4 separate regions of the Homo sapiens genome follow, and all the other regions are linked to region 1. Evidence: fine-mapped expression QTL. A gene starts in region 1. Each other region holds a variant in brackets. All regions are shown on one strand. Distances are from middle to middle.

The links. PIP is the estimated chance that this variant, and not a neighbour inherited with it, causes the effect. A credible set is the group of variants that fine-mapping cannot tell apart.
Region 2: its variant is the best candidate, but not a certain one, in a credible set for the expression of RAD9A in transverse colon (GTEx, PIP 0.63).
Region 3: its variant is the best candidate, but not a certain one, in a credible set for the expression of RAD9A in tibial nerve (GTEx, PIP 0.83).
Region 4: its variant is the best candidate, but not a certain one, in a credible set for the expression of RAD9A in skeletal muscle (GTEx, PIP 0.86).

Annotation. Positions count from the first base shown.
Region 1 is chr11:67,387,883-67,395,618 of GRCh38, reverse strand. RAD9A (RAD9 checkpoint clamp component A) reads right to left here and starts at 3,633. Exons shown (of 11, transcript NM_004584.3): 1 at 3,541-3,633; 2 at 3,388-3,458; 3 at 2,837-2,965; 4 at 2,009-2,123; 5 at 1,829-1,928. The coding sequence starts at 3,574. LOC100130987 (a long non-coding RNA gene) reads right to left here. Exons shown (of 4, transcript NR_024469.1): 4 at 3,932-4,221. It also overlaps the pseudogene RNU6-1238P. RefSeq lists enhancers at 3,012-3,516, 3,551-4,466 and a silencer at 3,417-3,786.
Region 2 is chr11:67,595,932-67,603,667 of GRCh38, reverse strand. NDUFV1-DT (NDUFV1 divergent transcript) reads left to right here. Exons shown (of 3, transcript NR_130935.1): 3 at 1-788. Among named protein-coding and RNA genes, the nearest start is that of NDUFV1-DT, 6.9 kb to the left of the region's middle. RefSeq lists enhancers at 1-180, 2,962-3,011. The variant A/G (reference allele first, on the strand shown) is at 3,643.
Region 3 is chr11:67,491,875-67,498,465 of GRCh38, reverse strand. It overlaps PITPNM1 (phosphatidylinositol transfer protein membrane associated 1), which reads left to right. Exons shown (of 24, transcript NM_004910.3): 11 at 144-333; 12 at 442-549; 13 at 787-944; 14 at 1,030-1,235; 15 at 2,118-2,288; 16 at 2,864-3,028; 17 at 3,241-3,389; 18 at 3,510-3,620; 19 at 4,106-4,222; 20 at 4,396-4,544; 21 at 4,629-4,778; 22 at 4,873-5,056; 23 at 5,404-5,532; 24 at 6,170-6,591. The coding sequence ends at 6,433. Among named protein-coding and RNA genes, the nearest start is that of MIR6752, 4.9 kb to the right of the region's middle. The variant T/C (reference allele first, on the strand shown) is at 2,170.
Region 4 is chr11:67,326,718-67,334,453 of GRCh38, reverse strand. All of the region lies in intron 2 of LOC100130987 (a long non-coding RNA gene), which reads right to left. Among named protein-coding and RNA genes, the nearest start is that of POLD4, 23 kb to the left of the region's middle. The variant A/G (reference allele first, on the strand shown) is at 4,147.

The DNA of each region.
Region 1 (7,736 bases):
ATGTGCGCAGGCCTAGCGCACCGTGGATGAGGCCCAGAGAAGGTGGCAGGGAGGGGACTGGTTGCAGTGGTTGCTCAAACCTGGCAGGCGGCACCTGACCATGCAGACCAGGGAGAGGGCCCAGAGGCAGGACGTGGCACTCAGGCCACCCTACAAACCCGGCCTTCAGAAAGAGCCCTGAAATCCTTATCCTCTAAGGATACCCATTGACATACAGATGAAATCACATCTGGAAATTGTTTCAAGTCAAGTGGGGACGGGAGCTGCGTCTGCTTTTACATATATTTGAAATTATTCATGAGACAGAGTGCTTGCTTCGGCAGCACATACACTAAAACTGAAGCATGCAAAAGATGAGCAAGGCCCCTGCGCAAGGATTTAAAAAAAAACAGTGGCTCATGCCTGTAATCCCAGCACTTTGGGAGGCCGAAGCAGTGGATCACTTGAGTTCAGGAGTTCGAGACCAGCTTGGCCAACATGGTGAAACCTCGTCTCTACTAAACATATATAAATTAGCCGGGCGTGGTGGTGCATGCCTGTAATCCCAGCTACTCGGGAGGCTGAGGCAGGAGAATCGCTTGAACCCGGGAGGCAGAGATTGCAGTGAGCCAAGATTGCACCACTGCACTCCAGCCTGGGTGACAGAGCGAGACTCTATCTCAAAACAAAACGAGAGAAACAATTGCTCATTTTTAAAAAAAGAGACTGAGTGTGGTGGCTGACGCCTGTAATCCCAGTACTTTGGGAGGCTGAGACGGGCAGATCACCTGAGGTCGGGAGTTCAAGACCAGCCTGACCAACATGGAGAAACCCTGTCTCTACTAAAAATACAAAAAATTAGCCGGGCATGGTGGCGCATGCCTGTAATCCCAGCTACTCGGGAGGCTGAGGCAGGAGAATCACTTTTATCGGGAGGCGGAGGTTGTGGTGAGCCGAGATCGTGCCATTGCCTGGGCAACAAGAGCGAAACTCTGTCTCAAAAAAAAAAAAAAAAGACACCACCCTAAATGCAGACCAAGGAATTGGCCCCCGTCTCTCACTACCCAAAAGAGCTCTGAGCAGTGCTGGCTCAAAAGAACCTGGGGAAACAGATGTCAGGACCCAAAGGGATCTTCAGTCACCCTGAGAAATGAGCAGGACCTTGGGCCACTTGAATGCAAGCAGTGACCAGCATGGAGCAGGGGGAGAGCCCACTCCTCTCTGAGCTGGTCCTCGCCAGGGACGTTTGCTTCAACTGGAGTCCCCATTTCCCTGGCCCCAGACAGCCCCCAGTGCTCGGACTGCCCAGAACAGCTCCACCCCATAGCTGATTATTCAGCCTCCCTCCAGCCTCCTGCCCTGGCCTTGGGGACTCCTCGATCCTGGGCAGTCAGGAAAAGAGGCTGCCGTTGAATGGGGAACACCTCTGGAAGGATGCCCAGGCCGGAGAAGGGGTCTGAGCCTCTGAGCCACAGGTTATGGGCAGACCTTCAAGGTTACTCAAGCCAGACAAGAGATTTGGTGGCAGGCCAGAAATGTGCTCCCTAGAGGAGGAGTTGGAATGGGTTTGAGCAGCCAGAAAGTCAAGTCAGACCTTTGGGATGGAGAATGCAGGCTCCTAACAGTAAGGAGAATGGAGCAAGGAGGCGCCTGCCCCTCCTCCATGCCACCGTCTGCCTTTAAAGAGCCAGGTAAGGACCTGAGCACATAGCGGGCCATGGGATGTCTTTGAGGTTCACAGAAACTCTGTAGGGAAAATGAAAGAGGTACCTTCTAAAATCAACCCCTTGGGGCCCCAAAGAAGGAAGAGAGAGACCCGGGGCTGAGCTGAGGGCAGGGGTGTGCTCACCGTGCTGGGGCGCGGAGCATGTGGGGGCACGAGGCTGGGTCGAAGACGGCCTGCAGGGACTCACAGTCCTGGAAGGACAGGTTGTGAGTCTTCCGCACCCCTGGATGGGCGATAGGGTCTCAGTGGGCCTCGCCGACCTCCCTGCTGAGGCACCCCTTGGCTGGCCGGCTGCCCACTCACCGAACTTGCAATGCAGCTGGACCACCAGGCGGCTGCTCCGGCCATTCAGGGAGATGCAGCATTTTTCCACCGTCTTCTCCAGCATCGCCAGTGAGCGGAAGACAGACAGGAAAGACTGCATGGGATAAGACACCTCAGCCTAGCATCACATCTCTGCAACAAGCTCTCCTGTCCCATGCAGGCCCACACCCATCATGGGCCCAGCATGTAACTCTGGGAAAAGGGCTCCCACGTCACCTCGGGCACTGGCATCCTTCTAGGCCTCATTCATGCTCTTCCTTATGCTTGGAATGCCTTGAAAGACCTGCTTACCTTTTTTTTTTTTTTTTTTGAGATGGAGTCTCGCTCTGTCACCCAGGCTGGAGTGCAGTGGTGCGATCTCAGCTCACTGCAACCTCCACCTCCCGGATTCAAGCAATTCTCCTGCCTCAGCCTCCCGAGTAGCTGGGATTACAGGCGCGTGCCACCACGCCCAGCTAATTTTTGTATTTTTAGTAGAGACGGGGTTTCGCCATGTTGGCCAGGCTGGTCTCGAACTCCTGACCTCGTGATCCGCCTGCCTCGGCCTCCCAAAGTGCTGGGATTACAGGCGTGAGCCACCGCGCCCGGCCAAAAGACGTGCTTACCTTTCTTGACGAACTTGAGCGTCACCACCCTCTCAGGTCCCCGCTGTGATGCTTTTACCATGGCCCTCCCTGTGTTTTGCATGGATTGGGCTTGCACGTGTCTCTCTCCCCACTTAGCATCTACTGAGTACCCCAGGGCAGAGGCACAGCTGGTGGAGATTCCTGGGGTGGAGTAGTGCCACTGCTGAGGGAAGGGCCTCACCTTCATCAGGATCTTACAGCGCAGCAGGTCCTGACCAGGGGTGGCTGCCTGGTATTGCTGGAAGAAGAGCGGGGCAAAGAGAAAGCAGGCATAGGCAGAGCGGGAGGAGTTCACCGTCCGGAGGGAGAGCTGGGCCACGAAGAGCAGGGAGAGGGACGTGGTCAGGGGGCAGCCACAGACCCAGCCCTCTGGCTGCTTCTGCTCACACACTTGCCCTATCGTCCTCCCGCTCCGCCACCACCTGCTGAAAAACCCTCCTTTCCCCATGGAAGCCTTCAGAGTCGGCCCCGGCGCTGCTGCCGCAGAGGAGGGGTCGCACACCCAGGCCTTCCCCGAGTTTCTCTAAGTGCACGTCACCCCCTGGGAGCTCGCAGGACAGCTTTCCTCAATTCACACACCGGCCTGGGAAGATGACAGCCGCCAGACTAAGAAACTGAAACTTTGCCGACAAATCTGCCAGCGGTCATCCCGCCTAGTGGGGGCGAGACTCTAGTCCGGGTTACCCGCTCCCGGCTGGAGTCCCACCCGCCCCCCACACCCTAGCCCCTCACCCCGTCCTCCAAGGGTTCCAGGTAGAGCTCGTCCCCGATGCGGGACAGGGAGTGGACGGCCTTGCCGAGCACTGCGGGGAGAAGAGCGGAAGGGGGTTAGGCTGGCGGCTCCGCGGCTGCTGCACCGCCGCTGCCAGGCCGACCTGCACTCACCCTTCACGTTGCCGCCCGTGACCAGGCACTTCATGCTGCCCCAGCGCTCCGCCAGCGGCCAACACTGCCCAGCTCTCCGCGACCTCCGGGTCCGGGGTCCCTTCCCGCGCACCGCCCCTGCCGGCCCCGCCCCCGCCTCCCCATTGGTCCACGTGCAGGCGCCTCCGTCACGTGAGAAAAACGCTCACAGGCTCTGCCGTCACGTGACGGCGCACGTTGTCCGGGGTGTCACGTGACCGGGGAGGCCCGCGGCGCCCGCCAGCCAGCTGCTCCTGGCTCCCCCGGCACGCCTCGGCCTTCCGTGCCCCTGGAGATCGGGGCGTTCCGCGGGCCGCGCACCGGATTGCGAAGGTCAGAGAGGACGCAGCTGTGGGGCGCGAGGTCCCTGTGCAGTGGACCGAGTGCTGGACTCGGAGTCGGAGTGTGGGGGCGAGCTCTCTGGGGTCACCCACTTAGTAGAGTTCCCGGGCGTCTGCCGGGGGATACAGGGTGCAAGCAAGACCATCGCACCCACTCTGGGCCTGAGACTCGGACTCCAGCAGCAATCCCCAACTCTAGAAAGAAGTCAAAGCAGCTTGCTTGCAGCAGCCGGGAGTGGGAGGTGGCTGCTCCTTCCGGCTTCGAGGATCCTTTAAGGAAAAACGGCAGTTTCTCCAGGCAGAAAGGGGTAGAACGGTGCCCCTGGCAGAGGGAAGAACAAGAGTAAATGCTCAGCGGTGTGGGCTCCGCCCCCTGGAGAGGGGAGTAGGTCTGTGAGTCTCAGAGAGGCGTAGGGGCCGCCAGATGATGAGGGGCACCGCTGGGACGCTCTGGAAACGTTTTACGAGGGTAGATCGTGGTTATGTGCCTTTTTTTGTTTGTTTGTTTTTTGAGACATATTCTTGCTCTGTCACCCAGGCTGGAGTGCAGTGGCGCGAACACGGCTCACTGCCGCCTGGAACTCCTGGGCTCAAGGGATCCTCCCATCTCAGTCTCCTGAGTATCTGGGACCACAGGCACACCCACCACGCCCGGCCCTTTTTTTTTTTTTTTTTTTTTGGGTAGAGACGGAGTCTTGCCATGTTGCCCAGGCCGGTCTCAACTGTGGGGTTCAAGCTGTCTTTCCGCCTTGGCCTCTCAAAGTGGAGTGAGCTACTGCACCGGCCTGTTTTTTGTTTTTTGTGTGTGTGTGTGGGGTTTTTTTGTTTGTTTGTTTTGAGATAGAGCCTCGCTCTGTCGCCCAGGCTGGAGTACAGTGGCACGATCACGCCTCCCAGGTTCAAGCGATTCTCCTGCTTCAGCCTCCCAAGTAGCTGGGATTACAGGCGCCTGCCACAACGCCTGGCTAATTTTTGTACTTTTAGTAGAGACGGGTTTCACCATGTTGGCCAGGCTGGTCTCGAACTCCTGACCTCAAGTGATCCGCCCGCCTCGGTCTCCCAAAGTGCTGGGATTACAGGCATGGGCCACCGCGCCCAGCCCCGGGTCTGTATTTTTAAAAGACCCCAGACTGGCCGGGTACGGTGGCTTACGCCTGTAATCCTACCACTTTGGGAGGCCGAGGCGGGCGGATCACGAGGTCAAGAGATCCAGACCATTCTGGCCAACATGGTGAAACCCCGTCTCTACTAAAAGTACAAAAAGTAGCCGGGCATGTTGTCACGCGCCTGTAGTCCCAGCTACTCTGGAGGCTGAGGCAGGAGAATTGCTTGAACCCGGAGGCGGAGGTTGCAGTGAGCCGAGATCGCGCCACTGCACTCTAGCCTGGCAACAGAGTGAGACTCCATCTCAAAAAAAAAAACCAGACTGTGTGCCAGGTGGGGATGCATCAGCTGGAAGGTATTCCCCTTCCCCTGGGCTTCCGGGTCCACGTGTGTAAAATGTAAGGGAGTCCTGGAGAAACTCACTGACCCCTACTCTCCCCACAGTACCAAGGCTCTGGTAGTTCTTGGAAGGGCCCAGGGCATCCCTGTATTCCTGCAGGGCCTGCCCGTGCCTTGCCCCTCAGGTCCTGTGGTAGTGCAGAAGATATATTTATCTCTGCCACCCTTGCTCTCCAGACCCACTTTCAAATGAGTTGAATTGATACATAATAATTGTACACATTTGGATACATGCATACACTTTGTTTCTCCCTCTCCTTCCCTTCTGCTCCCCTCGTCACCAGCCCTTGCCCCTTCCGTGGAGCCTTGGGGGAGGAGGTTACTCTTCCCTTCCCCTTCCCGGGGGATCCATGGAAATAGTGCCCCTGTCCCTGGGCATCCGGCTCAGTATGCTGGAGTCATCCTTGACCTCATGCTCGCCCTCACCCCTACACAGTCTTTCAGTTAAGTCCTGACCACTCTGCTTCCCAAACAGGTGGCAACTTAACAGGTGGCAACTTTGCCCTCCTCTTCCATCTCCAAGGCCTAGGCCACCATCCTCTCACCTGGATGACTGTAACAGCTCTCAGTGGTCTCCTGCCTCCACCCTGCCCCCTCCAGGCCACTCTCCATACAGCAGCAAAGTGACCCTCCTAAAATGTCCATTGTGTCATGCCTCTCCCGTGTTTGCACACTCCAGTGGTTGCCATAAAATCCAAACTCTGCCCTGAACCTGCAGGAGCCGCCGCCACCCATTTCTCCACCTGTGGCCTCCCCTTGATCACCTGCACAGCCATGCCAACCCTGTGGGCTCCCTGAACCCTCCACTTCCTTTTCCACCTGGGGATTTTAGCACATCCTTAGCTGTCCCCACCACTTGGCATCGTCTTACCCCTTCTAACGTGGCGGTGCTTCTCTTCCTCCAGGCTCAGTGCCGTCTTTTCTGCCCCCACCAGCATCCCATTACACTCTAGCTAGACCCTGTTTTAGCCACAGCACTTATCACGTTATTTCATGCGTGTGTTTGCCTGTTTAACATCTGTCTTCCTCACTAGTGTGTCTGCCTCACAAGGGCAGGAACCATGTCTGGTTTTTGGTTTTTTGTTTTTTCTGAAGACAGAGTCTTGCTCTGTCGCCCAGGCTGGAGGGCAGTGGCGCGATCTCGGCTCACTGTAACCTCCGCCTCTGGGGTTCAAGCAATTCTTGTGCCTCAGCCTCCCAAGTACCTGGGAATACAGGTGTGTGCCACCACGCCCGGCTAATTCTTGTATTTTTATTAGAGATGGGGTTTTGCCATGTTGGCCAGGCTGGTCTCAAACTCCTGACCTCAACTGATCTGCCCGTCTCAGCCTTCCAAAGTGCTGGGATTACAGGCGTGAGCCACTGCACCCGGCCTTGGCTTTGTTTTGTTTGTTCTGTTTTGTTTTGTTTGTTAAGATGGGTTCTTGCTTTGTCACCCAGGCTGGAGTGTAGTGGCACGATCATAGATCACTGCAGCCTCAACTTCCCAGGCTCAAGCGATCCTTCCACCTCAACCTCCCGAGTAACTAGGGCTACTGGCGCATGCCACTACAGCCAGCTAATTTTTTAAATGTTTGTTAGAGACAAGGTCTCCTTCTGTTGCCCAGGCTGGAGTTGAACTCCTGGGCTCAGGCGATCCTCCTGCCTTAGCCTCCCAAAGTGCTAGGATTACAGGCGTGAGCCACCACACCCAGCATCCATGTCTGTTTTGTTTGTTGCTGTATGTACCTCACACAGGGTCTGGCACTCAGTAAATAATGAATAAATAGGTGTTACATTTAAAAATGTGTAAACCAGCCGGGCGCGGCGGCTCATGCTTAATCCCAGCACTGTGGGAGACCAAGGCTGGTGGATCACTTGAGCCCAGGAGGTGGAGATTGCAGTGAGCTGAGATAGCGCCACTGCACTGCAGCCTGGGTAAGAGAGCCAGACCCTTTCTCAAAAAAAAAAAAAAAAAAAAAAAGTAGGCCGAGCGCTATGGCTCACGCCTGTAATCCCAGCACTTTGGGAGGCCGGGGCAAGTGGATCACCTGAGGCCAGGAGTTTAAGACCAGCCTGGCCGACATGGTGAAACCCCATCTCTACTAATAATACAAAAATTAGCCAGGCATGGTGGCACGTGCCTGTAATCCCAGCTACTCAGGAGGCTGAGGCAGGAGAATCGCTAGAACCTGGGAGGTGGAGGTTGCAGTGAGCCAAGATCGCGCCACTGCACTCCAGCCTGGGCAACAGAGTGAGATTCTGTCTCAAAAAATGAATGAATGAATAAATATCTGTAAACCATTCCTGTTGACAAAGGGCATGGAAAAATAAGCAAACAAACAAATAAATAAA
Region 2 (7,736 bases), 210 kb before region 1:
TAAAAGCACAGCACTTAATCCTTTACATTGTCTATGATGCAAAGACCTTTGTTCACGTGTTTGTCTGCTGACCCTCTTCCCACAATTGTCTTGTGACCCTGACACATCCCCCTCTTCGAGAAACACCCACAGATGATCAATAAATACTAAGGGAACTCAGAGGCTGGCGGGATCCTCCATATGCTGAACGCTGGTTCCCCGGGTCCCCTTATTTCTTTCTCTATACTTTGTCTCTGTGTCTTTTTCTTTTCCAAATCTCTCGTCCCACCTTACGAGAAACACCCACAGGTGTGTAGGGGCAACCCACCCCTACAAATTAGGGAAGAAGTAGGGGGAAAAGATGAAAATAAACCAAGCCTGCAGCATACTCAGTATTCATCATGAGGTCAGCTGCTCTCTGACCTGCTTCCTCATGGCTGGTTGGTGCCTGTTGTCCCGGAGTGACAAAGACCCTAGATTATAGCTGCCCTTAACTGCTGTATAAATAACAACTTGAACATGAAATGCTAAATTTTCCTTTTGAAGTATTCCTTCAGATCCTGCATGCTGATAAAACTACTGACTCAACTGGTCCCCATGAGGAGCTGGCTCACCAAAGAATGCGGTTTCCAATCCCAATTATTTCATGCCCCTTGCTTAGGCAATCAACAATCCCAAATTTCCAGCCCCTTGCCCTCCACAATCTCCTTAAAAAATTCAGTCCAAAACTCCTTGGGGAGATGGATTTGAAGGTCTCCTCCCATCTCCAAACTTGGTGCCCTGCAATCATTAAACTCTTTCTCTGCTGCAAACCCTGCTATCTCAGTGTAATTGGTCTGTTACTGCATACATATGGGCATACAAACCTGTTGGTCCTACAACAACCCCATACAACTATCTTGAGCACCTATTGTCAGGCCCAGTGTGAGTAAGGCACGATCAGATCTTCCCCAACCCCCAGCATAGAGCTTCTCAAGGGAGGGACTTACTCAATATTGTAATCAAATATTATATTTGAAAAATGAAAAACATCAATTTTTTTCCTGTGTTTGAAATTGAAGAAATACCAAAAAAGCAAGAAGAAAGTAATAACATTTTATGACCATCCTGACAATACCTGTTACTGTTTCTAGGTGATTTTTTTTTTAATATTTATTTATTGAGATGGAGTCTCGCTCTTTCCACCCAGGCCAGAGTGCAGTGGTGCAATCAGCTCGCTGCAACCTCTGCCTCCTGGGTTCAAGCGATTCTCCTGCCTCAGCCTCCCAAGTAGCTGGGATTACAGGTGCACACCACCACACTTGGCTAATTTTTGTATTTTTAGTAGAGACAGGGTTTCACCATGTTGACCAGGCTGGTCTCGAACTCCTGACCTCAGGTGATCCACCCACCTCAGCCTCCCAAAGTGCTGGGATAACAGGCGTAAGCCACCGAATCTGGCCAAATTGTTACTTTTTCTCGAACTCGTGAACTCTCGGCTCACTCATGCGCCACCGTGCCCGGCTATTTATTTTTTTTTTTTAGTAGAGACAGGGTTTCTCCATGTTGGCCAGGCTGGTCTCGAACTCCTGACCTCAGGTGATCCGCCCACCTCGGCCTCCCAAAGTGTTGGGATTACAGGCATGAGCCACTGCGCCTGGACATATACTCTGTTTTTGTTTTCACTTCATATTCAGGAAGGGGGATAGAGATATTAGCTTTTGCTTGGACATGAAATTTAGGTATGATCTAAAAATTTAAGAGTAATCACTAAAAATAAAAGTAAAATGTGTAACTTCCAATAGTAGGGGAGAAGGGACTAGCACAAAAACCTCAATTCAACTGAAGACAAGAAAACAAAGTAAAGAAGAAATACAGGGAAAGAATGCTAAATAGGAAATACAGGCCAGGTGCGGTGGCTCACGCCTATAATCCCGACACTTTGGGAGGCCGAGGCGGGTGGATCACTTGAGGCCAGGAATTCGAGACCATCCTGGCTAACATGGTGAAACCCCGTCTCTGCTAAAAATACAAAACATTAACCGGGCATGGTGGCAGGTGCCTGTAATCCCAGCTACTCGGGAGGCTGAGGCAGGAGAATTCCTTGAACCCGGGAGGCAGAGATTGCAGTGGGCCGAGATCGTGCCATTGCACTCCAGCCTGGGTGGCAGAGCGACTCCGTCTTAAAAAAAAAAAAAAAAAGTTTTTCTAGTTTTTCTTCTCTGGTCTTGATGTGTTTGAGAAAGACATAGTGGGTTTCAGGTTGTATCCTGCTGTCTTGAACTGGAAATCTTTTTTTTCCATGAATTTAAACTGGAAAGAGTAAAGTCTATCAGTCACGGCTGGTGGGGCACGCAAAGGACAAGGTGAAAGTATTTAAGGCAAGCAGCACAATGAATGACGCATCAGGCCCAGGCCTCTCTCCCTGCTGGCCCAGCTCAGGGGCCATGGAATACCCTCCGCGCCGCCATCCTGGTGTGGCCACTCTCCATCACTCTGCCAGGGTCTCAGGGTCCCTCTTTGGCATATACCATCCTGATGCATTAGACATGGTCTGCAGTTTCCATCACGGAGGACCAGGGAGGTCTTGGGCATACACAGACCCCAGGTACCGGTATCAGTCCCCTGGGTCCGGTCCTGCTGGCGCCTCCCTGCAGCAAACTCACATCCGGAAACCCAGAAGATCAGGTCTAGGTAACGATTGTTTCTGCATTGGTCCTTTGCCCATCCCCCTGTTGTCACCTGAAGTCTTGCCTATACCCCCTTTGTCCCTTAACACAAAAGCTCTTGTCCCTTAACACGAAAGCTCTAGTCTCTTCTTTTTCACTCCTCATAGTCCTTGATGGCTATCTGGGATGACAGACACCAGGAAAAGCTTACACACCCCTTCAACGCCCCTTCTAAGCTGTGAGAAATGTGAAACTCGTCTTCCCCATTCCTCAATGGTTCAGGTTTTAGAAATGTCAGGCCTCATCTTATAAATCAGCAAAAAGAAAAAGAAAAAGACTGTTGAGTTTTTATGATCAGAAACAGGTTGAGCAGTTGTCTTCTATTACATTTTCTTCCTCCTGGGGCCACTTTGCACCTTGCAAAGACAATTTCCTCCCACTATGCAAAACTCAAAGCCACAAAGGACATTGAAGGGGACCTCTGTGGCTGCAGCCGGTCATGAGGCCATGGCCAGTATTTATGGCTTCCTTCCTTTATCGTGCACCCACAGTCCCCGCCAGTTGGCCCCTCAGCTGCTGGGAGGATGGGGGAGCCAGGCTGGTTCACAGGGCTTTCACCAGGTGGATGACTTAATATCATAAAAGTGTCACATCTTCAAATTAATCTGTAAATTCACTGCAAATTCCCATCAAAATCCCACCAGGGCTTTTCATGGAAGTGGGAAAGCTGACACCAAAATGTATATAGAACAACAAAGGGCCAAGAATAGCCAAGACAATTTTGAAGAAGAAGATGGGGTGGGTGGTGGGTTTCGCCCTGGCAGATAGCAAGACTGATTCTAAAGCCATAGCAATCCAGTCAAGTAGACCAATAGTTCTTACATATAGTGCATCTTTATCATCATTCGCTAGATGTTCTGCAATTTTGGTTTTGATTTCTTCTTTGACGGGAGTCATTTTAAGAAAGATTTATAAATGTACAGGGGTTAGGGGGATTTTGTTTCCCGGTTTTGTT[A/G]TTTTTCATTTTATTGCCTCATAATGAAAGACTGTCATCTGTACTATTTCTCTCCCTCTCCCCACCCCTCTTAATCCCTGGAATGTTCTAAAATTTCCTTTAAGGCATAATACATAATTATTATAGTAAATGTCCCAAGAGCAATTGAAGGGTGGTGCCTCTCTGCTTTCCTATGGCAGAGTTTGAAATCTTATTTAAAACTGCCAGAGTCCTTGTCTATCTGTGAGCTTTTGTTGTATAGGTGCCCAGATATGTTACTTGGTGCACAGATGCTCTTAACTGTAGTCACTTGAGATGTGTCCTACTTTCTTTCTTTCTTCTTCTTCTTTTTTTTTTTTTTTGAAACAGAGTCTCGCTTTGTCGCCGCCCAGGCTGGAGTACAGTGGCACGATCTCGGCTCACTGCAACCTTCACCTCCCAGGTTCAAGTGATTCTCGTGCCTCTGCCTCCCGAGTAGCTGGGATTACAGGTACATGCCACTGGGACCGGCTAATTTTTGTATTTTTAGTAGAGACAGGATTTCACCATGTTGGCCAGGCTGGTCTCTATCTCCTGACCTCAGGTTACCTGCCTGTCTCAGCCTCCCAAAGTGCTGGGAGTCTCCTACTTTCATAAGAGATAAAGTGTGTATTTAGATGGAATGTGTGTTTTGGTTTTCATGGTCTTTGTGGCTTTTGGGGTATTCTGAAGGATTAGTGGGAATCCCAGCTCCACCATTAAAAACCACAGGTCCTCCCTCTTCCTGTCAAATGTTGCAAATATTTCCTTTATCATCTATCTGATAATCTAATAAACAATAATGATCATTGTACAAGAGAAAACTTCAGATAAATGCATGAGGTGATGGTCACACTAAATATCCTAATTTGTTTGTTTTTGAGACAGGATCTCCCTCTATTACCCAGGCTGGAGTGCAGTGATGGGAATATAGCTCACTACAGCCTTGACCTCTTGGGCTCAAGCAATCCTCCCACCTCAGCTCCAAAGTAGTTGGGACCACAGGCATGAACCACCACACCCCACTAATTTTTTAATTTTTTATAGAGATGGGGTCTCATAATGTTGCCCAGGGGGACCTTGAACTCCTGGGCTCAAACAATTCTTCCGCCTGGGCCTCCCAAAGTTCTGGGATGCTAGATGTGAGCCATTATGCCCAGCCTACCTAATTTGATCATTATAAAACACATATATGTATATGGAACCACCAAATTGTACTCCATAAATATGTACAAGTACAATGTATCCATTAAAAATTTAAAAAGAGAAATCTTTTGTTTTGATATAGTTAAATTCATTCATTTAGGGGCCTTATTTAAGAAATCTATCTCGGTTTTTTTGGTGGAGACGGGGTTTCGCTGTGTTGGCTGGGCTGGTCTCTAGCTCCTAACTGCGAGTGATCCACCAGCCTTGGCCTCCCGAGGTGCCGGGATTGCAGACGGAGTCTCGTTCACTCAGTGCTCAATGTTGCCCAGGCTGGAGTGCAGTGGTGTGATCTCGGCCAGCTACAACCTCCACCTCCCAGCCGCCTGCCTTGGCCTCCCAAAGTGCCAAGATTGCAGCCTCTGCCCGGCCGCCACCCCGTCTGGGAGGTGAGGAGCGTCTCTGCCTGGCCGCCCATCGTCTGGGATGTGAGGAGCCCCTCTGCCCGGCTGCCCAGTCTGGGAAGTGAGGAGCGCCTCTTCCCGGCCGCCATCCTGTCTAGGAGGTGAGGAGCATCTCTGCCCGGCCGCCCATCGTCCGGGATGTGGGGAGCACCTCTGCCCGGCCGCGACCCCATCTGGGAGGTGAGGAGCGTCTCTGCCCGGCTGCCCCATCTGAGAAGTGAGGAGCCCCTCCACCCAGCAGCCGCCCCATCTGAGAAGTGAGGAGCCCCTCCGCCCGGCAGCTGCCCGGTCTGAGAAGTGAGGAGCGCCTCCGCCCGGCAGCCACCCCATCTGGGACGTGAGGAGCGTCTCCACCCGGCAGCCACCCCGTCCGGGAGGGAGGTGGGGGCCAGCCCCTCTGCCCGGCCACCACCCCGTCTGGGAGGTGTACCCAACAGCTCATTGAGAAGGGGCCATGATGACGATGGCGGTTTTGTGGAATAGAAAAGGGGGAAAGGCAGGGAAAAGATAGAGAAATCAGATTGTTGCTGTGTCTGTGTAGAAAGAAGTAGACATGGGAGACTTCATTTTGTTCTGTAGTAAGAAAAATTCTTCTGCCTTGGGATGCTGTTGATCTATGACCTTACCCCCAACCCTGTGCTCTCTGAAACATGTGCTGTGTCCACTCAGGGTTAAATGGATTAAGGGCGGTGCAAGATGTGCTTTGTTAAACAGATGCTTGAAGGCAGCATGCTCTTTAAGAGTCATCACCACTCCCTAATCTCAAGTACCCAGGGACACAAACACTGCGGAAGGCCGCAGGGTCCTCTGCCTAGGAAAGCCAGAGACCTTTGTTCACTTGTTTATCTGCTGACCTTCCCTCCACTATTGTCCTATGACCCTGCCAAATCCCCCTCTGCCAGAAACACCCAAGAATGATCAATAAAAAAAAAAAAGAGAGAGAGAGAGAAAATAATGAAGTGAATGGTATAAAATGTTGAATAGGTAAATCTGGGTAAACGGTAAATATGGCTGTTTTTGGTAGTTTAAAAAATTTTTTTGCAACATTTTATAACTTTGAAATTATTTCCAAATAAAAAGTTTTAAACTCCAAAAAGAAAAAAAAGAAAAAAAAAAGAAATCTATTCCTAGCCCAAGGTCATAAGAAACTTTCTTTAATTATTTTTTTCTGTTAGTATTTTATTTTTCTCTCTCAAGTGTAGGTGAACCCTAGTGCAGGGCTTCTCAACCTTGACACTATGGCCATTTGGGGCTTTGCTGTGAGCTTCTCAACCTTGACACTGTGGCCACTGGGGCTTTATTTGCTAGCTGCCCTGTGCATTGGAGGATGTTGAGCAGCATCCCTAGGTGTCAATAGCACCCCACAAGTTGGGACAACAAAAATGTCTCCAGATATTACCAAATATCCTCTGGGTGACAACATTGCCTCCTCTCGAGAACCACTGATCTGTTTAGATTTTATTGTATATGGTGTGAGGTAAGGATCCAGTAATTTTTCTTAATAGGTGGAATCAGTTTCACTAATGCTATCTAAATAACTCTTCTTTTCAAACTTATTTATGATACCACTGCTAGTACATACTGAGTTCCAAGATAGGCATGGATTTGTTTTATATTTTTATTTTATTTTATTTTTCATTTTTAAAGCATGGGTTGGTTGTATGTGATAGAGACTGGCTAGATATCACAAACTCATTTCCTCTTCTCAGACACAGAGCTAAACTGTTTCTCAGTCTTCTTGCATCCAAATGGGGCAGAAATGAAGTGTGTCACTTCCAGGCCTGGGCAGCCGGGAACAAGTGTGTCTTCACCTTGTTCTCTCTCTCTCTCTCTCTCTCCTTTTCAAAGACACCTTGCAAACATATGAATCTGGGTTGAATGGGCTCAGTTCTCACTCAGGGAGATAACCAGAACAAACTATAAATATAGTCTCTGAGTCCAGGGGTCAGTTAATCAAGATTCCTAGATTGAAGCTTGAAGCATATTTTCCTGATTTGTGGTTTTAATATCTCTGTTTATGGCAGAAGGCATTTCAGCAAACTCCTCAAGTGCTCCCTACATCAGGCATGAGGGGTTTTCTCTGAAGTTTAATCCAGTTGTCCATATCCTGCTTGTAGGGCTTTAGGAACAAAGCAATCCTTGTTCTTAATGATTACAAGTCAGAAAAGTGGGAGACACTTAAATTGGAGAAACCAAAAAGAATTCGGGCTCAAGCAATCCTCCCATCTCAGCCCCCTAACTAGCTAGGACTACAGGCCTGTGCCACCACACCTGGCTAACTTTTGTATTTTTTGTAGAAACGAGGTTTCGGCATGTTGCTCAGGCTGGTCTCAAACTCCTGAGCTCAAGTGATCCACCTGCCTCAGCCTCCTGAAGTGCTGGGATTACAGGCATGAGCCACCATGCCTGGCCTGATAAATTTTTTTAAATTAGCTGGGCATGGTGGTTCATGCCTGTAGTCTCAGCTATTCAGGAGGCTGAGGCAGGAGG
Region 3 (6,591 bases), 100 kb before region 1:
TGGCTCCATTTCAGTTGCCTCTTGGGGCTAACGCTCCCCACAGAGGACCCACAGAGCCAGGGCCTGCCAGCAGGCCCAGGGGACTTGGATGGCAGGAGTGGGTCTGGAAGCCCCTCACCCACGCACATTTCCCCCTCCTACAGCCTGAGCCCTTACAGCCACGATGGGGACAGCCTGTCTCGCTCCCAAGACCACATTCCACTGGCTGCCCTGCCACTGCTGGCCACCTCATCCTCCCGCTACCAGGGCGCCGTGGCCACCGTCATTGCCCGCACCAACCAGGCCTACTCAGCCTTCCTGCGCTCACCTGAGGGTGCCGGCTTCTGTGGGCAGGTCAGCGGTTAGGGACAGTCCATCTGCTGCCCTCCACTGCAGCCCCCACTGTAGTCTGGCCTGGGTGAGGACAAGGCCTCTCCTGATGGTGCCCCTGCTCCCACCCAGGTCGCACTGATTGGAGATGGTGTTGGTGGCATCCTGGGCTTTGATGCACTCTGCCACAGTGCTAACGCGGGCACCGGGAGTCGGGGCAGCAGCCGCCGTGGGAGCATGGTCAGTATAGCCAAACCCGGCCTCCTCAGGAGCGGAAAGGCCCTCTCTGGCTCTAGGTCTCTGCCCCCTGGAATGCCACCCCTCTGCCAGCAGGCAGGCCCCCTGCTGCCCTGCCAGTTCATGTCTTCTCTGGAATTCTGCTCTGCCCAACCCCCAAGCCTCGCTCCTCACTTCTAAGTAAGTAGAATTCGAATGGTCCCCAGGCCTAAGAATGTTTCTGTCTCCTGTTCCATCCAGAACAATGAGCTGCTCTCTCCGGAGTTTGGCCCAGTGCGGGACCCCCTGGCAGATGGTGTGGAAGGCCTGGGTCGGGGCAGCCCAGAACCCTCGGCCTTGCCTCCCCAGCGCATCCCCAGCGACATGGCCAGTCCTGAGCCCGAGGGCTCTCAGAACAGGTGACGTCCCTGCCCCATCACCCCTACCCTGGGCACATGATGGACTACAGAGGCAGCAGCACTGAGCACCCCTCCTCCCCCACAGCCTTCAGGCAGCCCCCGCAACCACCTCCTCCTGGGAGCCCCGGCGGGCAAGCACGGCCTTCTGCCCACCCGCTGCCAGTTCCGAGGCACCTGACGGCCCCAGCAGCACTGCCCGCCTTGACTTCAAGGTCTCTGGCTTCTTCCTCTTCGGCTCCCCACTGGGCCTGGTGCTGGCTCTGCGCAAAACTGTGATGCCCGCCCTGGAGGGTGAGTCCTAGGGGCTGCGGGGGCGCCTCTAGTCTCTGTCTGCCCCTTCCTTCCCCACCTCCTCTGGCCTTCCCTCTCATCCGAGGCATGAGCAACTTCCCCACTGTACTAATTCAAAGGCCTGGCTACAGAAGGGGAACCTGAGGCCCAGAAAGAAGGGACTCGCCAAGGGTGAGTCTCCCAAAGCCACTGGGAGGAGCTTCACACCCGTGGGATGTTCTGCACTAGAAGGGGTCAATCAGACACCACAGCAGCAAATCGAAGCCGCTGCCCTCTTCTCAGCCTTTTTTTTTTTTTTTGAGACAGAGTCTCGCTCTGTCACCCAGACTAGAGTGTCAGTGGCCTGATCTTGCTCACTGCAACCTCCTGGGTTCAAGTGATTCTCCTACCTCAGCATCCCAAGTAACTGGGATTACAGGCACCTGCCACCATGCCCAGCTAATTTTTGTATTTTTTTTAGTAGAGACAGGGTTTTGCCATGTTGGCCAGGCTGGTCTCGAACTCCTGACCTCAGGTAATCCACCCACCTCTGCCTCCCACAGTGCTGGGATTCCAGGAATGAGCCACTGAACCCAGCTAATTTTTGTATTTTTAATGGAGACGGGGTTTCACCATGTTGGCCAGACTGGTCTCGAACTCCTGACCTCAAGTGATCCATCTGCTTCTGCCTCCCGCAGTACTGGGATTCCAGGCATGAGCCACGGTGCCCAGCCCCTGTCTCACTTTAAGCAGGGCCCTACTGACTTCCCAGGGAGTGCAGTTTGGGAAGTGCTGGCTCGGGGTCACACCAGACATCAGGGTGCTGCTCCCACACCCCCTACCTCCCAGAGTGCCCAGCTGAAACCCTGACCCCACAATCTTTCTCTGTCTTCTGGGTACCAGCAGCCCAGATGCGCCCAGCCTGTGAACAGATCTACAACCTCTTCCACGCGGC[T/C]GACCCCTGCGCCTCACGCCTCGAGCCCCTGCTGGCCCCGAAGTTCCAGGCCATCGCCCCACTGACCGTGCCCCGCTACCAGAAGTTCCCCCTGGGAGATGGCTCATCCCTGCTGCTGGGTACGCCCCCAAACAAGATAAAGGGGAGAAGGAGGAGGGCACACACAGGAAGGGAGGAGGTAGCAGAAGACATGAGGAGGCTCCCAGACGATGGAAAACCTCTCAGGCCACCACTCCCAGGACCAGGCGCTCCTTCCCCCTGGGGGGGTCTGGATCCCCAGGACCCTCTGACCTCCTGGGCCTAGAAGTTGGGTGGGGGTGGTTAGCCAAGCTAGAGAGGGTGCCCCCTGGCAGCATGATGCTGGTGTGCTGCCATACAAGCAGCCAGCATGTGTGCGCTGCTGCATCTGTGTGGGGTGTGCTGCAGACATTTATTGCGGGGCATGCCCAGGTATGTATGGGCCAAGCGGGCCTGTGTTGGGCACAGGTGTGCAGCGTTTGGGGCGGTGGCAACAGGCATTCTGGCAGGAGTGCAGCTGGCCACTGGGCTGAGAGGAGAGAATGCCACAGTGCAGCCTCAGCCAGGACCTGACCAGAGGGGCCACAGGAAGATGGCAGAGGTGCGGGGAGCCCTGGGTGAGAAGACAGGAGAGCCACCTGGCCGGCCCCTGCTGACCTTGCCCTCCTTCCCCCAGCCGACACTCTGCAGACGCACTCCAGCCTCTTTCTGGAGGAGCTGGAGATGCTGGTGCCCTCAACACCCACCTCTACTAGCGGTGCCTTCTGGAAGGGCAGTGAGTTGGCCACTGACCCCCCGGCCCAGCCAGCCGCCCCCAGCACCACCAGTGAGGTGGTTAAGAGTAAGTCAGCCAGCCTAGGCAGTCCAGCCTGGGGGTGGGGGAGGCCCGTATTCCACCTCCGAAGCCCAGCTGAGAAACCCTTTCCCCCAGCACACAGCCTGGACTTGGCAAAGAGCAGGCTGGGTGAAAAGGGGGGAGGGAAGAGCACCCAGCGCCCAGGCAGATGGGTGTGGGGCAGGAGGCCATCCTGACTCGCTGCCATGGCCGCGCAGTCCTGGAGCGCTGGTGGGGGACCAAGCGGATCGACTACTCGCTGTACTGCCCCGAGGCGCTCACCGCCTTTCCCACCGTCACGCTGCCCCACCTCTTCCACGCCAGCTACTGGGAGTCCGCCGACGTGGTGGCGTTCATCCTGCGCCAGGTGGGCCTGGGAATATGGAATGGGAGATGAGAATGGGACGGGGATGGGCTGCTTTGGGCCGGGGGAGGGGCAGCCCTCCCTCCCCTAAGAGACAGAGGCCTCGCCCCCTGTCCCGTGCAGGTGATCGAGAAGGAGCGGCCACAGCTGGCGGAATGCGAGGAGCCGTCCATCTACAGCCCGGCCTTCCCCAGGGAGAAGTGGCAGCGAAAACGCACGCAGGTCAAGATCCGGGTAGGTGCCCTGCCCCTCGCCCCCTCGCCCACTCGCCCACTCTCGCCCACTCACCAGAGAGGCCCCGCCCCTCCCCCCAGCACCCCCCTCCTCGGGTCCTAGCCGATCCAACTCTCTCCCAGTCCTGCCCCGCCCCTGGGGTCCTGGCCCCACCTCATTGCCCCAGCCCCGCCCCTGGGAACCGCTGGTCTCCCCGCCCTCTGCGGGAAGTTTGGGTCTAGGGTCTGGATCTGCGCTGGTCCCCACCTCGCCTCATCCTCTGCATCCCGTCCTGTCACAGCTCTGCCCCTGGAGGCGCGGCCCACACACAGGCTCTCAGGCCGGGGTCCACAAAAGTGCGCCCCCCGGGCTTGCCCTTTTCCCTCAATGCCCCGCCGCCTCTAGGCCCCCACCCCGGTGTTTGCGTGTGGATCCTCACCCGCTCCCCCTCCCCAAGCATCCCCATCCTTTGCTGGCCGCGGACTCACGCCCTCTCCTCCCTCTAGAACGTCACTTCCAACCACCGGGCGAGCGACACGGTGGTGTGCGAGGGCCGCCCCCAGGTGCTAAGCGGGCGCTTCATGTACGGGCCCCTGGACGTCGTCACGCTCACTGGAGAGAAGGTCAGGACCCAGAGGCCCTGTCGCCTGGTCCCATGGCCCCATCTCCTGTCCTCGGAACAGCTCCTGGTCCCTGGTGGTTGTGCCCCTAGACCCACCCATCCCCGACGACAGCCCCGCCTCTGCCCACCTCCACGCAGGGCCCCCATTTACCTCCCGCCCCTTCTCCCCTCCAGGTGGATGTCTACATCATGACGCAGCCGCTGTCGGGCAAGTGGATCCACTTTGGCACCGAAGTCACCAATAGCTCGGGCCGCCTCACCTTCCCAGTTCCCCCAGAACGCGCGCTGGGCATTGGTGTCTACCCCGTGCGCATGGTGGTCAGGTGAGCGCGGCTGGCCGGGCCTCTGCGGGAGGGCTCCGCCAGGCCTCGCCCCGCGCCACTCACGCCCCGCCCCGTGGGCCGCAGGGGCGACCACACCTATGCCGAATGCTGCCTGACTGTGGTGGCCCGCGGCACGGAGGCTGTGGTCTTCAGCATCGACGGCTCCTTCACCGCCAGCGTCTCCATCATGGGCAGCGACCCCAAGGTGCGAGCTGGCGCCGTGGACGTGGTCAGGTAGGAGTTGCCACTGCCACCACCACCCATTTCACCGGGGTGACCGGCCCCTCACCCCTGGCCAGCGGAGCTGACCGCTGCCCCCGCCCCACAGGCACTGGCAGGACTCCGGCTACCTGATCGTGTATGTCACAGGCCGGCCGGATATGCAGAAGCACCGCGTGGTGGCATGGCTGTCGCAGCACAACTTCCCCCACGGCGTCGTCTCCTTCTGCGACGGCCTCACCCACGACCCACTACGCCAGAAGGCAATGTTTCTGCAGAGCCTGGTGCAGGAGGTGCGGCGGCTGGGGGAGGCTCCGGGTCCTGACCCCGCCCCCGCTCCCCCTTACCCTCCACCCCCGGATCGGCGGAGGCCCATCTGTTCCCAACTGGATCGGCCCGGGCCCTGCCTGACTGCAGCGGCCCGCTACGGTCCTGCTCCCCTAGTTTGAGGGGCCCCGTGTACTTAGGGGCAACTAGGGAGATGCAGCTGGTCCCGCCCCTGTCCCCGTGGGACTGGGACCTGTCTTCGCCTCCGTCTGCCTGGACCCACCCCCAGAACAATCTGGGGAAGCCCAACAGGCCCCGCCCCCAGCTGCACGGCTCCACCCCTGGGGCGGCTGATTGGCATCTCCCGCCACAGGTAGAACTGAACATCGTGGCCGGTTATGGGTCTCCCAAAGATGTGGCTGTATACGCGGCGCTGGGGCTGTCCCCGAGCCAGACCTACATCGTGGGCCGTGCCGTGCGGAAGCTACAGGCGCAGTGCCAGGTGAGGCCCAAGTGAAGGCCAGGAACAGGACCCCACCAGGGGGCAGGGCCCTCAGTCCCAGGCCTTGGGAACCACGGACTCTGGGGAAGATGTGAGAAGGCCTAACCGGCCTCCAGGGAACCTGGGATCCTCCGAGGACAAGGGCCATGAGCAGCTTGAGCTGCCAGCTGCCAGGCAAGCCAGAGGGGACAGCCCACACTGGAAAGTGCTCAAGACCCTAGGCGCTGGTTCCACTCGGCCATGGCTTTCCACTGTGACCTTTCTGAGCCTCAGCTTCCCATCTGTAAATGGAAATGATCATGGCACTGCCCATGTCAGCTTATGAAGATCACATCAACAGGCACAGGGCTGGGCACAAAGCAAGTGCTGGCTAAACATTGGCTGCTGTTATTTTTCCTCTAAGACCCCATTTTCCAGATGAGGAGACTGAGGCCCAGAGAAGGGCAGAGCTAGGAGCACAGCCAAGGTGCCCTGGCTCCCAGCCTGGGGTCCTATCTATTGAGAAGGCTTCAGCTCAGGCTGTGCCAAGCCTGCCACCAGTCCCCCAGCCTGCCTCAGGTGCCTCTGGAGGACCGTGGAGGGCAGCGTGTGGGCCCTTGGCCAGCACCCCCTCATCGCTGCCTACCTCTGCCCACAGTTCCTGTCAGACGGCTATGTGGCCCACCTGGGCCAGCTGGAAGCGGGCTCGCACTCGCATGCCTCCTCGGGACCCCCGAGAGCTGCCTTGGGCAAGAGCAGCTATGGTGTGGCTGCCCCCGTGGACTTCCTGCGCAAACAGAGCCAGCTGCTTCGCTCGAGGGGCCCCAGCCAGGCGGAGCGTGAGGGCCCGGGAACACCACCCACCACCCTGGCACGGGGCAAAGCACGGAGCATCAGCCTGAAGCTGGACAGCGAGGAGTGAGGCCCACACCAGCCTGGACCTGGGTTATTTATTGACACACCCAAGGGGCCCGAGGGGCTGCGTGTGGGAGGCTGGGGACCCAGACTTTTGGCCCCAGCGCTGGCCCCCCCAGCCCCACACCCTATATCTCCGTGTGCTCCTCGGTGTTACTTCCCTTT
Region 4 (7,736 bases), 61 kb after region 1:
TTGTATTTTTAGTAGAGACAGGGTTTCACCATGTTGGCCAGACTGGTCTCAAACTCCTGACCTCAGGTGATCTGCCCACCTCGCCTCCCAAAGTGCTGGGATTACAGGCACAAGCCACCATGCTCAGCTGGAGATGGAGTTTTGAGGGAAGATCCTTTGAGCCTGGGAGCCCAGGAGGCTGAAGTGCAGTGAGCTGAGATCACACCACTACACTCTGGCCTGGGTGAGAATGAAACCTTGTCTCAAAAAAAGAGAAGGGGAGGGGAGGGGAGGGCAGGGGAATCATAAAAGTATATTTACTATTAAGTGGAAGTGGATCGTGATAAAGGTCTTCATCCTCGTCGCTTTCACGTTGAGTAGGCTGAGGAAGAGGAATGGTTGGTCTTGCTGTCTCAGGGGCAGCAGAGGCAAAAGTGGTGGAAGGGGAGGCAGGAGAGGCAGGCACATTCTGGTGTAACTTTATGGAAATACATTGTAACTTCTGTCTGACATTTTTGCTTTTTCATTTCTCTAAAAATGTTTCTATATAGCAGCAGTCCCAACCTTTTTGGCACCAGGGACTAGTTTTATGGAAGACTTTTTTCCCATAGATGGGGTTAAGGGGGTAGTTTCGGGATGATTCAAGCACTTTGTATTTATTGTGTGCTTTATTTCTATTATTATTACATTGTAATATATAATGAAATAATTAGACAGCTCACCATAATGTGGAATCAGTAGGAGCCCTGAGCTTGTTTTCTTGCAACTAGATGGTCCTTTCTGGGGTGACAGAAGACAGTGACAGATCACCAGGCATTAGATTCTCATAAGGAGCTGGCAACCTAGATCCCTCACACGCACAGTTCACAATGGGGTTCGCTCTCCTGTGATCTGACAAGAGGTGGTGCTTATGTGGGAATGCAAGTGATGGGGAGCAGATGTAGATGCAGATGAAGCTTGTGTTCGCTTGCTCACCCGTTGCTCACCTCCTGCTATATGGCCTGGTTCCGGTGGCCTGGGGGTTGGGGACCCCTGCTATATGGTATTAATCCTTCTTCCACTGTTTGATTGAGTTTCAGTGCCTGCATCACAGAAGGGTCCATGTCATAAAAAATGTCAAAAGTGGTCCTGAATAATCAGAACCCTTCTTCTAGACTAATGTTAATTATTTTCTGCCACTGCTGCTTCTACATCTTCTTCTTCATCTGGCACAGGTTCAGAAGCACTCATCTCTATCGAGTCATCTTCTGTTAATTCGTCTTGGGTGGTGTCTATTAAGCTCTTCAATTTTTCTGAGATCCATATCAAACCCTTCACCCCATCTTTTTTGCCATATCCACAATCTTTTTCATGATTTCCTTGCTTGGCTTTATCATCAATCCTGTGAAATCATGCATAACATCTGGACACAGTATTCTCCAGGAGGAATTTATTGTTTCAGGCTTGATGGTTTTCATGGCTTTTTCCATAACAATGATGGCATCTTCAGTGGTATAATCCTTCCAGACTTTCACGATGTTCTATCAGGGTTCGCTTCCATAGAGTTGACAGTCCTTTCCATAGAGTACCATGTATATGTGTAATGAGCCTTTAAGGTCCTTACGAACCCCTTGATCTAGAGACTGAATTAGAGACGATGTGTTTGGAGACAAGCAGACCACTTTGACACCTTCGGTATTGAACTGATGGGGTTCAATGCCAAGGGCATTGTCCAATAACAAGAGAATTTTAAAAGGCAATCCCAGGCCAGGTGTGGTAGCTCTCGCCTGTAATCCCAGCACTTTGGGAGGCCGAGGCGGGCGGATCACTTGAGGTCAGGGGTCTGAGACCAGCCTGGCCAACATGGTGAAACCCTGTCTCTACTAAAAATACAAAAATTCTCTGGGCATAGTGGTGCGTGCCTGTAATCCCACTTACTTAGAAGGCCAAGGCAGGAGAATTGCTTTAACCCAGGAGGTGGAGGCTGCAGTGAGCTGAGATCATGCTACTGCATTCCAGCCTGGATGACAGAGCAGGACTCCATCTCAAAAAACAACAAAAAAAGGCAATCCCCTTACTGACAAGGTACATCCTGACTTCAGGGACAAAGTATCAATGAAATCAATTCAGAAAAAGGGTTTTCGTTGTCCAGGCTTTCCTGTTGTACAACCAAAAAATTGGCAGCTGGTGTTTTTCTTTTCCCTTCGGCTTGGGGGTTAGCAGATTTATAGATAAGGGCAGCCTTCATCATAAACCTGACTGCATTTGCACAAAACAATAGAGTTAGTCTCTTTTCTTTCCTAAATCCTACTGCTCACTTCTCTTCCTTACTAAGAAAGGTCTTTTGTGGTTTTCTCTTTTCTTCTGCATTAAAAACCTGTTCAGGCAGGTACCTTTTCTCCTCCTCTTTTTTTTTTTTTTTTTTTTTTTTGAGACAAGTTCTCACTCCCATTGCCCAGGCTGGAGTACAGTGGCACAATCACAGCTCACTATAGCCTCAACCTCCTGGACTCAGGTGATCCTCCCACCTCAGCCTCCTGAGTTGCTGGGACTACAGGCATTTGCCAACACAGCTGGTGAATTTTTTGTATTTTTTTTTTTTTTTTTTTTAGTAGAGATAGAGTTTCACCATGTTACTCAGGCTGGTCTTAAACTCCTGAACTCAAGCAATCCACCCACCTCGGCCTCCCAAAGTGCTGGGATTATAGGTGTAGGCCACCGCGCTGGGCCTCAGTTATTTTCTTATTGGCATCTCAGAACTCATCTTTTGTCTCTTGGAAGGTAAAAGGTGCTTTTCCTGTTATCTTGACCTTTTTTTTTTTTCTTTTGAGGCAGAATCTCACTCCCATCACTCAGGCTGGAGTGCGGTGGCACTAACACAGCTCACTGCAGCCTCGACCTCTCGGACTCAGGTGATTCTCCTACCTCAGCCTCCCAAGTAGCTGGAACAATAGGTGCATGCCACCATGCCTGGCTAATTTTTAGGATTTTTAGTAGAAATAGGGTTTTGCCATGTTTCCCAGACTAGTCTCAAACTTCTGGGCTCAAGCAGTCCTCCCATCTTGGCCTCCCAAAGTGCTAGGATTATATGCATGAGTCACCGCACCCAGCCTCTCTTGACATTTTTAAAGCCAAACCTCTTTCTAAAACTACCAAACCATCTTTTGATGGCATTAAGCTCTCTAGCGTTAGATCCTCACCTTCCTTTTGCTTTAAGTTGTCATATAATGACTTCACTTTTTCTCACATCATATTAGAGTCTACATGTACTCCTTTCTTATAGCAACCCTGCACATAAAAGGTGAATTTTCAATATGAGATAAAAAGTTATTTTGCAAAAAGTGCAAGATTTTCACACCTCCTGGTATAGCTTCACCAATTTCCTTTATTTTTTTTTTTTTTTTTTTTTACAATAGTCCTTACACTGACTATTGAAATAGTGGGCAACCATAGGTACAGACCTCAATCTGTGGAACATATCAAGCAATTCAGATTTTTCTTGAAATGTCATAACTTTTCTCTGCTTCCTGGAGTGCTCCCAGCATTAACAGTGGCACTTCATATGGGTCCTATGCTGAAATTCAAGGTCGATGGCATTGCACGAGACAATGAAAACTCCATGAGAACTGCAAGAGATCACCTTTTTACTGCAATAGGCAAGTTACTAGATAGACAAACTGCTCATGCAGAGATGATTAGTGTCACAGCATTTTAAGTGGATACTCGAAACAACTGAACTCAATGCAACAGCAACAGGAGGTGGTTATGAAATTATTACAGTAGTACAGTATGTACTAATTTTATGCAGTTATGATTTAATACGGCATCAAAATTTTTCTTTTTTTTTGAGACAGGGTCTCCCTCTGTCACTCAGGCTGGAGTGCAGTGGCATGATCATGGGTCACTGCAACCTTAACCTGGGCTCAAGCGATTCTCTCACCTCAATCTCCCAAGTAACAGGGACTACAGGTGTGTACCACCATGGCCAGCTAATTTTTTAAACAATTTTTTTGTAGAGACAGGGTCTGGCTATGTTGCCCAGGCTGGAGTGCAGTGGCATGATCACAGCTCACTGTGACCTCAAACTCCTGGGCTCAAGTGATCCTCCTGCCTCACCTTCCTGAGTAGCTAGGACTATACGCACGTGCCTCAAGTGATCCTCCCAGCTTGGCCTCCCAAAGTGCTCTG[A/G]TTACAGGTCTTGGCCACCTCATCCAGCCAATTTTAACTTCTTATAATAGATTTATCTATATTTCATTGTAGTAAGTGATAAAATAGACCAGTAGCTATACTTGGTGCATTCATGACATACCGAACTTTCTCTTAATTTTTCAATATTTCTAGGCTATGTGGTTTGTTTGTACATTTTTCAAATTGTTGCAAATCTCTAAAAAAAAATTCCAATATATTTATTGAAAAAAACCTGGCTGGGTATGGTGGCTCACGCCTGTAATCCCAGCACTTTGGGAGGCCAAGGCGGGTGGATCACGAGGTCAGGAGTTCAAGACCAGCCTGGCCAAGATGGTGAAACCCCATCTTTACTAAAAATACAAAAAAAATTAGCCAGGTGTGGTGGCAGGTGCCTGTAATCCCAGCTACTGGGGAGGCTGGGGCAGAGAACTGCTTAAACCCGGGAGGCAGAGGTTGCAGTGAGCCAAGGTCATACCACTGCACTCTAGACTGGGCAACAGAGCAAGACTCCGTCAAAAAAAAAAAAAAGAAAAGAAAGAAGGAAAAAGAAAAGAAGGGAAGGGGAGGGGAGGGGAGGGAAGGAACTTGTGTGGATCCAGGCAGTTCAAACCCATGCTGTTCAAGGGTCAACTGTATATTTCTTTTAGGTATTATATAGTTGGATCTTGATTTTTTTTTTTAGACAGAGTCTCACTCTGTCACCCAGGCTGCTGTCTTTTAGTTGGAGTATTAAATTGGAGTGTTTATATTGAAAGTAGTTATTAATATGGTTGGGCATAGGTCTACATTAGTTTGCTGGAGTTGTGCTATGGTCTGAAGGTGTCCTCCAAAATTGATGTGTTGAAAGCGCAGTCCCCAACGCAATAGTGTTAGAAGGTGGGGTCTTTTTTTTTTTTTTTTTTTTTGAGATGGAGTCTTGCTCTGCTGCCCAGGCTGGAATGCAGTGGCACAATCTCAGCTCCTTACAACCTCCATCTCCCAGGTTCAAGCGATTCTCCTGCCTCAGCCTCCTGAGTAGCTGGGATTACAGGTATGTGCCACCAAGCTTGGCTAATTTTTGTATTTTTAGTAGAGACAGGGTTTCACTAAGTTGACCAGGCTGGTCTTGAACTCCTGACCTCAGGTAATCCGCCCGCCTCAGCCTCCCAAAGCGTTAGGATTACAGGTGTGAGCCACCGCACCCAGCCTAGAAGGTGGGGTCTTCTAAGATTTTTTAGATCATGAAGACTCCGCCCTCATGAATGGATTAATATCACTATGAAGAGGGCTTGTGGGAGTGGGTTCACTCTCTCTTGCCCTTCTGCTTTTCTGCCATGTGAAGACACAGAGTTCATTCTCTCTTGTTCTTCTACCTTCTGCCATGTGAGGACGCAATCAGAAGACTTGAACACTTTTGGAACTATGAGAGAATAAATTTCCGTTCTTTATACATTATCCAGTCTCAGATGTTCTGTTACAGCATCACACAACAGACTAAGACAGGTTGCCATAACAAAGAACCACAGATTGGGTAGCTGAAACAACAGAAATTTATTTTCTCACAGTTCTGGGGGCTAGAAGTCTGAGATCAAGGTGTTGAGAGGGCTGATTCCTTTTGGGAGCCATGAGAAAAGGATCTGTTCTAGGTTCTGTTCTCTCCCCTTGGCCTATAGATGGCTGTCTCCACATCATCTTTCCTCTGTATGTGTCTATATCTGAATTTTCTCTTATGAGGACACCAGTCATAGAGGATTAGCATCCACCCTAAGACCTCATTTTAACTTAAAACCTCTGTAGGCCAGGTGCAGTGGCTCATGCCTGTAATCCCAGTACTTTGGGAGGCCGAGGCAGGTGGATTATCTGAAGTCAGGAGTTCGAGACCAGCCTGGCCAACACAGCAAAACTCCGTCTCTACTAAAAATACAAAATATCTCCAGGTGTGGTGGTGTGTGCCTGTAGTCCCAGCTACTTGGGAGGCTGAGGCAGGAGAATCGCTTGAACCTGGGAGCCGGAGGGTGCAGCAAGCCGAGATTGCGCCATTGCACTCCAGCCTGGGTGTTAGAGCAGGACTGCATCCAAAAAAAAAAAAAAAAAAACACCTCTGTAAAGATTCTGTCTATAGGCCGGGTGGCTCATGCCTGTAATCCCAGCACTTTGGGAGGCTGACGGGGGCGGCGGATCATGAGGTCAGGAGTTCGAGACCAGCCTGGCCAACGCAGTGAAACCCCGTCTCTACTAAAAATACAAAAATTAGCCAGGTGTAGTGGCCCGTGCCTGCAGCCCCAGCTACTCAGGAGGCTGAGGCAGGAGAATAGCTTGAACCCGGGAAGCGGAGGTTGCAATGAGCCGAGACCAAACCATTACACTCCAGCCTGGGTGACAGAGTGAGACTCCATCTCAAAAAAAAAAAATATTCTGGCCGGGCGTGGTAGGTCACGCCTCTAATCCCAGTACTTTGGGAGGCCGAGGCGGGCGGATCACGAGGTCAGGAGATCGAGACCATCCTGGCTAACACCGTGAAACCCCGTCTCTACTAAAAAAACAAAAAAATTAGCCGGGCGTGGTGGCGGGCGCCTGTAATCCCAGCTACTCGGGAGGCTGAGGCAGGAGAATGGCATGAACCCGGGAGGTGGAGCTTGCAGTGAGCTGAGATCACGCCACTGCACTCAAGCCTATGCGACAGAGTGAGAATCCGTCTCGGAAAAAAAAAAATTCCATCTGTAAATATTACGTATTATTAGGAGGATTACTTGAGCCCATGAGTTTGAGGCAGTATTATGCTATGGCTGCGCCTATGAATAGCCACTGCACTCCAGCCTGGGCAACACAGCAAGACCCTGTCTCTAAAATTAAATAAATAAATAAATAAAAATTACAAACACAATGAAATAAATAAATTAGGCAAGGATTATTAATGCTAAGGCCAATGGCTGATAGATTGCTGGGGAAAAGCATATTCGCATGGTCTCAACTTACCATCCAAGTTATTTATTTTTACACGTGGAAAAGAGTTCCTTGTCAATAGAGAGATCTAGCAGATACCATCTTAACCAAGTAAATAAACTCAGTATCGGCTGGGTGCAGTGGCTCATGCCTGTAATCCTAGCACTTTGGGAGGCCAAGGCGGGCAGATCACCTGAGGTTAGGGGTTCAAGACCAGCCTAGCCAACATGGCGAAACCGTGTCTCTACTAAAAATACAAAAATTAGCTGGACATGGTGGCGCATGCCTGTAATCCCAGCTACTAGGGAGGCTGAAGCAGGAGAATCGCTTGAACCCAGGAGGCAGAGGTTGCACTGAGCCGAAACCGTGCCACTGCACTCCAGCCTGGGCGACAGAGTGAAACTCCGCCTCAAAAGAAAAATAAAAATAAAAAATAAAATAAACACAGTATTATCAATAATGGGATAAAGCAACATTACATGACTAAAGTAATGCAACAAATAGGAAGAATATGTTATACAATATCCTTAGTATTCTTGTAGTATTATGTAGTATTCTTGCAAAAAGGCTTACCCTGAATCTAATTATAAGGAAATATTCAAAGAGACCCAAATTGAAGGATATCCAACTAGCTTGGATTCTTCAAAAATGTCAATGTCATGAAAAAC